Regions from separate parts of the Homo sapiens genome. Here region 2 is linked to region 1. Evidence: fine-mapped expression QTL. A gene starts in region 1. The other region holds a variant in brackets. All regions are shown on one strand. Distances are from middle to middle. Region 1 holds the start of NRG2 (neuregulin 2). Region 2 overlaps NRG2 (neuregulin 2).

Region 1 (5,367 bases):
TCACCAATTCCACAAGTCTCACAAATATGTCCTTTAATTTCTAATCCCCTTATATAAGGCTCCCCAAAATGGTACCTATTTATATACTTCCCTTTGAATATCAATTCAAAGCAATTTTTTTTTGCATTCTAAAATGTTTACTGCCATACACATTCCTGATCCTTGATAATTTGTGATATGTGAGGGCCCTTCCTTTACCAGTGATTGCAGTTCTAAATGTATCTTTTTAAGAACTATACTACACATGCTATTTTGATAATATGAGATGATCATAACCTAGAAACAGACCATATTTCTGCCCCTCAAATCTTTCATGATTTCTGCATTCAACTGTTAAGCTACTGAATACCCACTAGAACAAACAATGTGTAATTGATAAGGTGTATTGTGTTGGGGGAAGGAGAAAGTAGGAGGAGGGAGACAAGGGAGCAGAGAAGCCAGTTACTCTATGGGGTTATCTGACAAAGACCATCAAGTCCTCAGCGGCCCAGACTAGGGATTATGTGGAGATGTACACTGTGCAAATGCAGGAGCAACTCACCAACAACCAAACAGAAGCTGTCCTTGGACAAGATTCAATAAATATTTTTACTATCTATTTTCCACTGTACAATACTGTTTCACAGCTCCCCAAGGCATCTCAGAGTATTTTAATACTCCCCAAGTATCAAAATACTTAATAGAATAAAAAATTAGAAATTCTTAGCTGGTCTCTACTTGTCTTTATAAAACATTTCAGAACATAAAACCAATAATAAAAAGCAGTCAACAATATTCCTAAGGATAATGTCAGAGCGATAAACTGCTGTTATCCCCCAAAGTTTTCCCCTCCTTATTAAGACATTGCCAAGATTCTTCTCATTAAAGTGATCACAGTTTAACATAGTTAGTGTCTAGATATACTCCCATCACTAAACTCCTAAAATTTGCCTCCTGAAGGGGGTGGGGGAGGAAAGCTTCCAAAAATCATAGGTATCGATCTAGAAAGATGAAGGCAGCAAAACTTACTATAAGCTGTTACACATATTTTGCTACTCAAACAAAGCCTGTCTACACTACCCAGAATCAGTTGGTAAAACTGGTAAACATACCAACTTCTATGAGAGTACAGGACATCTATCATAATTCAGCGATTACACAGTCCAGCAAGTCATACCGCATGCCAACAAATTCAGCTTTAGTTGGGACAAAACGAAACCTCAATTTGAATAAGCACGAGACAGGCTTACACCAAATACTCCAGTGTGGGACAATTTGATTTGAAATATCTTACTAAGAAGTAAGTACTGGATTCAGGGACAAGAAGAAAAAGCTCTTAGACTGACATTTCTTTGACTTTTGACATGGGAGACTTCCATTCCCAGCTGCAGAGATCTACAGATTTCAGTGTTTTGTTTCTAATCACCTGCATTCCTGTGCAGCATCCAACATCATGAAGATGAGAGATGCAGTCAAATACATCCGGCGAGTAAGACGTTAGAGCTGAACTTAAAGCATTCAGCAGAAGTTACTCTCTTTCATCATCATCACAATCAACAGACCTTGTAATTCCCCCAGAAACAGCTAAAAAAAAAAAAAAAAAAAGGTGTCTGCTTGCTAGTCTTAAGAGAAGGATGTGCTACCTGCTTAGCAAAGACAGGCAATCACGATGAAGAAAAAAACTGGAGCCACATGGAGGACGGAAAACAGTAGCAGAAAAAGTCCAACTCTGCCTGCGCCAGCGGTGTGGATGAGCAGAGCAACGAGCCCAGGAGAGGAAGGAGGGGGCGGGGGCGACCATTCCCTAGGAGAACTTGTAAGCGGAGGCCTTCACAGCCTGGGAGTCTGCCCAGCTGCTCCCGCAGACCCTGCCAGCCTGGGCACGGCAGGCCCGCGGCAGCAGGGCAGGCAAGGCCTCCGAGGGTCACTCCTGACTCACTGAGCCTCAGGCCAGCACCGCCAGGACCTCTCCGTTTTTCCTTCCGCTACTGGGCTATGATGGCAGCTTTCCAGCCCCACATGCCATACATCAGCCGCAGATCCCCGCTGGCACAGGCCAGCGCCTCCCTCCGCCCCCCACCCCTGGCACACTTTGAGCCTGATCCTTCTTCTCTCCAACCCCAACCCCCTCACCCACCCGTGCCAGGCGCCCTGCCCAGGGGCGGCCCCACCCCCCCAGCGCCCGGACGCTGCCAGGCCCGGGCACCTGCAGCACCTCCCCGCCCCACCCCCATTCTCCACCACCTCGCCCCTCCCCCCTTTCTCCAGCAAAGGGAGGGGGCGACTCACCGCAGTCAGTGCACAGGATCTTGCCCACCTCTTTCTTGAGATTTTTGCCGTTGGTATCGAGGGGGGCAAAGGCCGTCTTAAAGACTAAGGGCTGTTCCGTGGGCTCCAGGAAAAAGATGTAGCGCTGGTTCCTTTCGAGCGGCACACAGGAGCCCACGCTGATCACCTGCTCGCGCTGCAGCCCCCCGCTCCGGAGCGGCCACTTGTCCAGCACCTTTACCAACGCCACCCGACCCGAGGCGGGCGGCTCTCGGGTGCTGTTGGAGCTGGAGCCGCCGGCTGGGACCAGCCCCTGTACCTTGCCCTCCACCACCACGGGTGCCTTGTACGCCTGGTCCTGCACTGACTTGAGGCTGGGCGAGTAGCAGGCGAGCGACACACCGAAGAGCAGCATGGAGAAGCCGGGGGCCGGGTCGCGCCTCATGCCGCCGGCGGCTGCGGCTCGCGAACGGGCGGCGGCTCTCCGGGCTGCGGGGCTGCGGGGCTGCGGCTGTTGCTGCGGCCGCGGCTCTGGGGGCGCAGCGGGACGAGAGATGCTGCTGTTGTTGCTGCTGCTCCTGCTGCTGCTGCCGCTCTCGCTGCTGCTGCTGCTGCTGCTGCTGCTCCTCTCGCTGCTGCTGCTGCTGCTGTCGCTGTAGCTGCTGCACCGACCCTTCTCCAGTGGCGGCGGCGGCAGCGCTGAGCAGCAAACCTGCCGCATCTGGCCAGGCCATTTGGGGGGCTCCGCCGCTCAGCCGCCGCCGCCTTGGGAGGGGAAACAGAGCCCGCTGGAAAACCGGAAACAGCGTAACGTTAGCGCCTCTTAGCCCTCCACCGGCAGCCCGGGGAGGTGGCCCAGCTAGGGCAGGGGGCAGGCGGCAAGCGGGCCGCGATGCGCAGCGCGGCGCAGCGCAGCGCTCCCACCCTGTGCGCCAGGACCTGGAGGAGGATGCGGAGGATGGGACGCCCGCCCACTTGCTCTCTCGCGCCCCCTCTGCCCCCGGACCGAGTAGGGAGCGCGGCTTCTGCAGGGGAAGCTTGGGACTGCACTGCTTTAGTGCCCGCCTTCAGCCCGCAGGGGCGCGGGAGGAATCGTGCCACCCTTTGCTCCCGGGATTTATCGGCATGACAGTGGGGGTGGTGCGTGAGGAGAAGGCGAAGAAGAGATAACGGGCTCCTGGCACCATCCTATGAACGTGGTAATGGGACGCAGGGCGTGCCCCCTGCCTTTGGCCAGCAGCTGTAGGAGCCAGAGAGGTTGCCATGGCCAGGGTGGCCGGCCAGCCTCTCGCCTCTTGGGCTGTCCTCTTTCCTAGGAGGACCCTGGAGCCCAGCCCCTAAATGATACCACGTGCTCGGTCCTGCCACCGCCTGGTGAACGCTGGATATTCGACTTGAGGTGGGGGAGAATCCCAGCCCCGTCATTTTGGAAAGAGTTGGGCCACAAGGTGTCTTGTCTTAGCATTGAGGACACCCAAGCAGAGGTGGTAGCTGAGAAAGGGCCCAGTCCCCAACACTCTGGGCTTTCTTCAGCGGCCACGTGGGGATCTGGCTGAGCACTGTACAACCTCATCTTTTAAAAATCTGATCTCTAAGAAAGGTGGGGGGCTTCTTGGGAGCCAACAGAGAGCCAGAGCCTGTCAGGGCCAGAGGCTGCTCCATAAAAAAGGTTTTTTTTGTTTTGTTTTGTTTTGTTTCCAAGGCTGATGCTTGCAAGAGGCAGAAGAGTTTGCTGCACTGGAGCCAGCATCTGATTTAAAACACACACACACACACACACACACACACACAGGTCCATAATCCATTAGCCTATCAATGAGGGTCCAGGGAGTTTTCAACACCCAGCTTTTAACCTTGAAGGATGTGGAGCTCAGGAATGCCAGTGAGCTCTTGGGGAATTTTATACCGCACTGGGCTCCACAGGAAACTGGTCCAAGGATGAGTGACTTAGGCTAGGACTGCTATTCTGGAAAGGAAGTAGAGAGAGCTACACCTTTCCTCCTAGCTAAGAGACATCTTAAACTCAATACATCCAAAGCCAACATCATTATTTCTTCCACTTCACTCCAAATCCCCTATAATTATTAATGCCACTGTTTTATTCTTTTAGACTACATCAATCCATTACAATAAGTCCCTTCATCTCATCTTTTATTCTTCCTCATCCAATTAATCACCAAGGCCTTTGGGTCTCTCTTTTAAAATAATCTCCAATTTATCTACTTCCACTCCAACTCTGCTGCAAATACCTTAAGTCCAAGCCCTCATCATCTCTCACCTGGACAACTTCTAAGCCTTCTAACTGGTCTCCACTCCTTTCACCTCATCACCTATCTCCAGTCCTACCAATGCCAGAGTGATCCTTCTAAAAATAAAATGTAAGTACAATTTGGCCATGCTACTGCTCTCAGAAGTTAAGTTCAAACTCCTCAGCAAGGCTCTTCATGGGCTCCCTTTGCCTAGCCAGCTTCATATCCTGAGAGCCAACCCCCCACTCTAGCAATCCTCAGCACTTCATGCTCTTTCTTGGTGTGCTTCTGCACATGATGTCTCTTGTGTCCAGAAAGCCTCACCTCCACCTTGACCACATGGAAAACTTATTTTCCCAAGGCCCAGCTCAGCATTATACCGCATCCCCCTTCCTACATATCCACCTCTACTCCCACCAACACATACATGATGGAATTAATCCCTTCCTCCTCTGTATTGCCATGAGCTTCACACATAGTATTACTGTTGGGATACTGGCCCATACCGTATTTCAAGCAGCCATTTAATGGGTCTGCATCTCCCATCAGGCCAGGCACGTTAATGTCAGGGACTATATATATCCTATTCATCTTTGGATTCCTATTACCTCCAACACAATGCCTGGCATAAAATAAGGATTAGCAAATCTCCAGTGAAAGAAGGAGAGAAGGAAGAAAATAACTGAAAATCGGCACGCTTAAAGGCATCAAGCCAATCTTCTTGGCTCCTTCAGTGTCCCCCATTTCATTTTCATAGATCACAGACCTCATAAATCACAAAACATCACCATAAGGAAGATAGCGACATCCACTCTTTCATTTTACAATGAAAGAAAAAGTCCCAGAGGGGATAGGGGACTTACTCAACATT
Region 2 (5,367 bases), 160 kb before region 1:
GCAGGAAGCTGGGATTCCAGATATGCCCTCAGTGCCCTGCCCAAAGGTGCCACGGTCTGGTTCCTAAACTGATCACAGCATGGCCTACGGAGGGCTGACAGTAATCCGTGTGTGGGAGGGGACTGCAGCTTATCTGAGGGGTCTCACCACCTCTGGCCACAGGCCCCAAGCCCTGTGCAAGAGAGAGGGCACTCCTGTGGTTTTCTGCACAGCAGCCGCTCCCACTTTCTCTGCTAACAGCACCCCTTCGGGGAAGTGCTTTTCCATGGAGTTCTGACCAGGCCTTCACTCACAGTGCCCTGCCTCTCAGTAGCCCCTGTGCACACACAGACAGGCCAGGCAAAGATGGCCCCACCCTCCAAGCACAGTGACTGGTCAAGTGGGTCACATGACCTGGCAGGGTCATTCAGAATCCATCCTTGTGACTGTACTTATGGACACAGAGACAAAGCCATCTCTTTTCTCCGGGTGGTGGGCTGGGATGGGGTAGATCTGGACCTGTCTGAGACCATGGCCTCCTCTTCCCACCCCACTCCCCAAACATGAGAGAGGCCCATTTTACAGTAGGAAAGAATGAGGCCAACACATAGTGAGAGAAACTGTCTTGAGCCATCCTATGAGTTCTTGGACTCTTCCTCTGAGTTCTTAGATTCTGTCATGCCTGGGGCCAGTTCCACCTCTGAACTTACCAGTTTTATAAGCCAATAAATAAATCCCTTAAGATAGGCTTAAGTTAATTCTAGTCAAGAAAGTCTTGACTAATAAAATAGGAAGGCCCCAAATCCAAAGTGGATCTGAGAATGTCTGACCACTACAGCAGAGGTGGCAGGTGCTAGACCCCAGACACAGCCCACCTTCCCAAACTTGGGATAGGATGAGAGAAGTAGGAGCTCAGACACCCTCCCTGCTGTCATGCCCAGGCTGGGCCATAGAGGAGGCAGTAAAGACCTTGGAGCAGGTTATAAGTTCTCTTATATAATATTTACCAGGCACCCACTGTGAGCCAGGTGCTGTGCTAGACCCTGAGGCTAGGGTGGTAGACAGACTAGACATAGCCCCACAGAGCTCAAAGACTAAGTGTTTGCCAACTACTTTTACATCGTACAGCTCTATCATTAACTAGGTGTTTGACTTCAGGTGAAATATTTAATCTCCCTGAGCTTCTTATTGTTTATAAAATATATCCTGGCTTTGAGTATGGGTTCATGGGATAATGTGGAGCTTGGCTCAATAAATACTGGCTATGATTGTAACTTCCAGGAGAAAGCATCCTCCCTGTTCTCCCCTCTCCTGAGGCTCACAGATTCACTGGGATGGCCACGCCCACAGAGAAAGTTCAGCAATAGCATGAGAGTTGAAGGCTAATCAAAGGCTAGAATTCAAGAGATGCCATCAGAGCATGGTTGGCCAAGGAGTGGCCCAGGAGTGGAGCCCTAGCTGGGAGAGACGCTGCAGTGGGTTGGGATGGTCAAGGAGGAAGAGATGAAGCCATGGCCTCCTCTTCCCACCCCACTCTCCGAACATGGGAGAGGCCCATTTTACAGTAGGAAAGAATGAGGCCAACACATAGTGAGAGAAACTGTCTTGACCCATCCTATGAGTCAGGATGGCACAGGAGCAAGAGTAAGAATGGAATGGACAAGGGACTGATGGAAGTTAGGCTGGAAAGATCATTTAGGCCAGGGTGTTGAGAACAAAGTCCCTGTTCTGTAGTTCTATGGGGTGGGGAACATGACAGGATAAAAGCACCTTAGGAGGCTGCTGCTCTGGTTCAGGTGACTAGGGATGAAACCCAAGCCAGGGTTACCCTTGAGGTATAGTTAGAGCAGAAGAGGCAGGTGTGAGAAAGATCCAGAAAGAAGACTGGCAAGGACATGGAGACTCAGACTTATTAGACACAGTGGCAAGGGAGACCAAGGAGCACAAGGGGCTGGGAGGACGGGGTGTCCCTCACCAGGACAGGAAGACAGGGTCTGAACTAGGTTTTTGTCTGAGGGTCATAGGGCAGAGAGTGTTCCAAGTAGTCTTTTAGACCATGCTAGGTTTAGGGCATATTGGGAGGCTGTCTGGTGGAAATAGAGGCAGGTAATGACAGATACAGGATTATATTCTGTGATGAGCAGGACTGGAAGTGAACCCCAATAAATAGGTAGCCACATGCACACTCAGTCTGTGTGTGTTGGGGGGAGGAGAGTGATCTGTGGGATTTAAGGTACTCAAGCTAGAGTGGAGAGGGCACTGCCTGAGGACAGGTAGTTTTGGCGGAGAGGCAATCTCCCAGTCAAGGGAAAGAACCAGGGCCTGAGAGGGCAGTGCAGCAGGAAGGCAGCCTCTACCCTGAGGCTGGGTCTGCCACTGTAGAGACGAGAAGGTAAGAGGTGCCGTGAGGTCCTGACCTTGCAAGACTTCAAGGAGTGAGGATGGCCTGTCGGGGAGGAGTTTGCCCTCCCTGAACAGAGGCTGCCACCAGGGGCCCCAGGCATCCAAGCTGCCCACCCATGGCCCAGTGGAGATGGCTGCCTGTGCTCAGGTGCCCAGCAAAGCAACAGGCAATAGGCAGTCAGCTTGTACATGCCCCAGGCCTGCCTCTCCCTGCAGCCCCACTCCTGGCAGCCCAGCCTCCTATAATTGCCTTCTAAAAATATCCTTTCCCCACCCCCACCTCTTGATTTCAAAATATTTAGTTTTCAGGGTATTTAAAATGAGAGCTGGCGGCTCTTCCAGGCCCAGATAACAAAGCTAAACATTTATGCTTCGACTGCATTTCTCTGAATCGGCTGAGATCTAGGGCTTGATATGGCAGCAGCAGGAGGGAGGGGAGTTGAGTGCGAGATGGATCACATGCAGGCCCCAAGGGCTGGGGGGCCACTGGCCCGCCCTGCCAAACCCCTCTAGGACCCTTCCCTCTGTCTGGGCCCACCTACCGCTGTTGACGTAAAGCCGGCCCCGGACGGTGTCCTTCCCCAGGATGTTCTCGGCCTCGCAGACATACTCCCCAGCGTCCTCCACCTTCACCTTGTTGAACTGTAGTCGTGAGTTCTTTCTGGTTAGGGAGGGGATAAAAGGGGGAGAGGCGTGAGCCAGGGCCGGCTGTGGCTCCCCAGCAGTCACCCAGCGGTTGCCTCTCTCCACAGAGCCACAGTGGCCCTGCAGCTTAGATGGGAAGGAGATTCCCTCCCCCCAGCAATTTCTGGAGTCCAGGTGGGGCACGGAGTCCCTGCAGCTGCAGGGAGCCTTGGGCCCTTAGGACAACACAGGGCAGGACTAGTGGCTGCTCACATGTCCTAAATCTATGATCCCTCACATCCGCTCTTCTAGG[G/C]CTGGACCATTGTAACATTCTTCTGGGGGAGTAAAGCCAGGCCCTGTAGGAAGTCACATGGCCACCTCCCTCATTCCCAGCTGCCTCTGCCTCTCCTGGGAAGTGGCAACCTGTCATTCTGGGTATGCAAGACCTGTTCCCAGATACCCGGGAGGGCAGCTGTCCTGACGGATTCCCATGGTGATGGTGCCCAGACTCCTAGTCCAAACCTGGGGCTCTCCCTTGTTCTCAAAATCAGCGCTGCCACTAAGGGGCACTCTGTGGCTTCTCCAAGGGGTTTTTGTTTCATTCATTCATTCAACAAATGTTTACTGAGCACTTCCTGTGTGCCAGGAGCTTGTACACCTTGGGGAACAAAAAGATCCTGGACTTGATCCTCAGGGCCAAACTGGGTGTTCTCTGCTTACAGAAGGGAAAACTGAGTCCTAGAGGGACTTCCTGACTTGCCCAAGGGCACTCGGCAAGGCAAAGGCAGAGGTATGCCAGGAGCTGCAGTTCATGAGGACGTGGGCTATCTCTGAGAAAAGCTGGGGCTAGCCCTGAAGCTTTGCACCTAGTCCCTGCATGCTGAGAACTGTGTAGGGCACCTGGCCTTGGTCCCCCTCTTCTTTCTGAAGCCCCAGCCAAACCTCTCCTTCCTTCTCAGAGTTTCCCTGCACCTACCCCAGGGTGCTTAGGCTCTGCAAGGGCCTGTTCACAGCCCTCACCCCTTCCTCTGCCTCCAAGGGCCAGCATGAGCTCTGGATAAAGCCTGGGATCCCAGGCTGGCCCCCAGGAGGAAGCAAGAAGTAACACGGTAATTTCTGCACATGGTATGATCACCTCCTCTTTTTAGTGCTGAATTAAAAAGCCAGATTTCCAGCCTATGTGTAGTGGGCTGGAGAGATGGGGGAATACGAGGGAGGGCAGTAGAGCCATCATTGCCCTGAGCCTAGGGGATGTAAAACTGAGCTATGGAGCTGATGGGGTAAGGAGGCTGAGGAGAGGCAAGCAGATAGGCTGGGCCAGGGTCAAGGAGACGCAAACTGGCCCACAATCCCTACCTGGGCTGTCTCCACCTCTGATGGGGAGCCTCTTCCCAGGCATCCTGGCATCCTTACCCCAAGGTCCTCCCAACAAGGGTGCTACAAGATGGTCTTGTCTATAGACCCTATTGCTATGGTAATGTCCTTGCTGATGCTGTGGTGACAGCTGCTTAACTATACCATATTCTTCCTGGCTCAAGCTGGTCTCTGTCTCCTTGGCCTGGTGCCGGCCCACAACCCTCTTCTGTCAATTATAATTTGTTCCCTTCATTAAAGAGAGCCCTGGAGGCCCCTCTGACTAAGACAGCATCTCTTTCCCTGCTCCAGCCAAATTAGATGCCACAAACTCCAGCTTGCCCAGGGTATGGCTTCTCTCACTTCCCTGTGCACACACCAGATTAGCAGGGAAGGGGGATCGCCTGAGGGTCCGGGGGTGGGGGTGTTGATGCACAGGGGACTCAGAGCCAGATTCTCCTTGTCACCCCCCTGGAATTCAGAGGCGCTTCCCTTATACAGCATCATATGTAGCAGGACGTGGCAGAATGTTAAGGAAGGATTCCCCACATGCAGGCATGTGAGACCTGGAGAAGGCAGGCACAGGTCTCTAGGAGTGCCCCTTCCTTCTGAGGAACAAGAAAGAGGCAGGGGACAGAGATAATGACCCTGAGGCTTGCTGCAGATGTCCTAGGTTAGCAGCTGTCTGATGATTTCATAGAAGCCGGCCCCAGAGATGCACACGGGGCTCTGGGTCCTGGCTAAGGGGCAGGGCTCTGAGGGTTTCTCAGCCCCTGCAGGAACTGGAGTCACCACCTTCTCCCTCCTCACTCCCAGCTCCAGGTGGAAGCCTGAGGATCCAGGACTCTCCTGTCTCCCTGGCAGGCCGCGTGCTGTGCTCTGCTCCTGGTGTCCCATCACATGCTGACCCAAGTTTGCCCTGAGATGGTGACCACGCCCTCCCCCCTCCCCCCTACCTCCCCAGCTGGTTCTCTGCTGGCAGGGACAGGATCTGGGCAGCTGTGTCCT

The links. PIP is the estimated chance that this variant, and not a neighbour inherited with it, causes the effect.
Region 2: its variant is fine-mapped to the expression of NRG2 in lung (TOPMed, PIP above 0.99).

What each region holds. Positions count from the first base shown.
Region 1 is chr5:140,040,102-140,045,468 of GRCh38, forward strand. NRG2 (neuregulin 2) reads right to left here and starts at 3,198. Exons shown (of 10, transcript NM_004883.3): 1 at 2,269-3,198. The coding sequence starts at 2,968. RefSeq lists enhancers at 1,101-1,290, 2,663-3,332 and silencers at 2,631-2,840, 3,001-3,340.
Region 2 is chr5:139,877,932-139,883,298 of GRCh38, forward strand. It overlaps NRG2 (neuregulin 2), which reads right to left. Exons shown (of 10, transcript NM_004883.3): 3 at 2,925-3,043. Among named protein-coding and RNA genes, the nearest start is that of PSD2, 85 kb to the left of the region's middle. RefSeq lists an enhancer at 1,985-2,748. The variant G/C (reference allele first, on the strand shown) is at 3,320.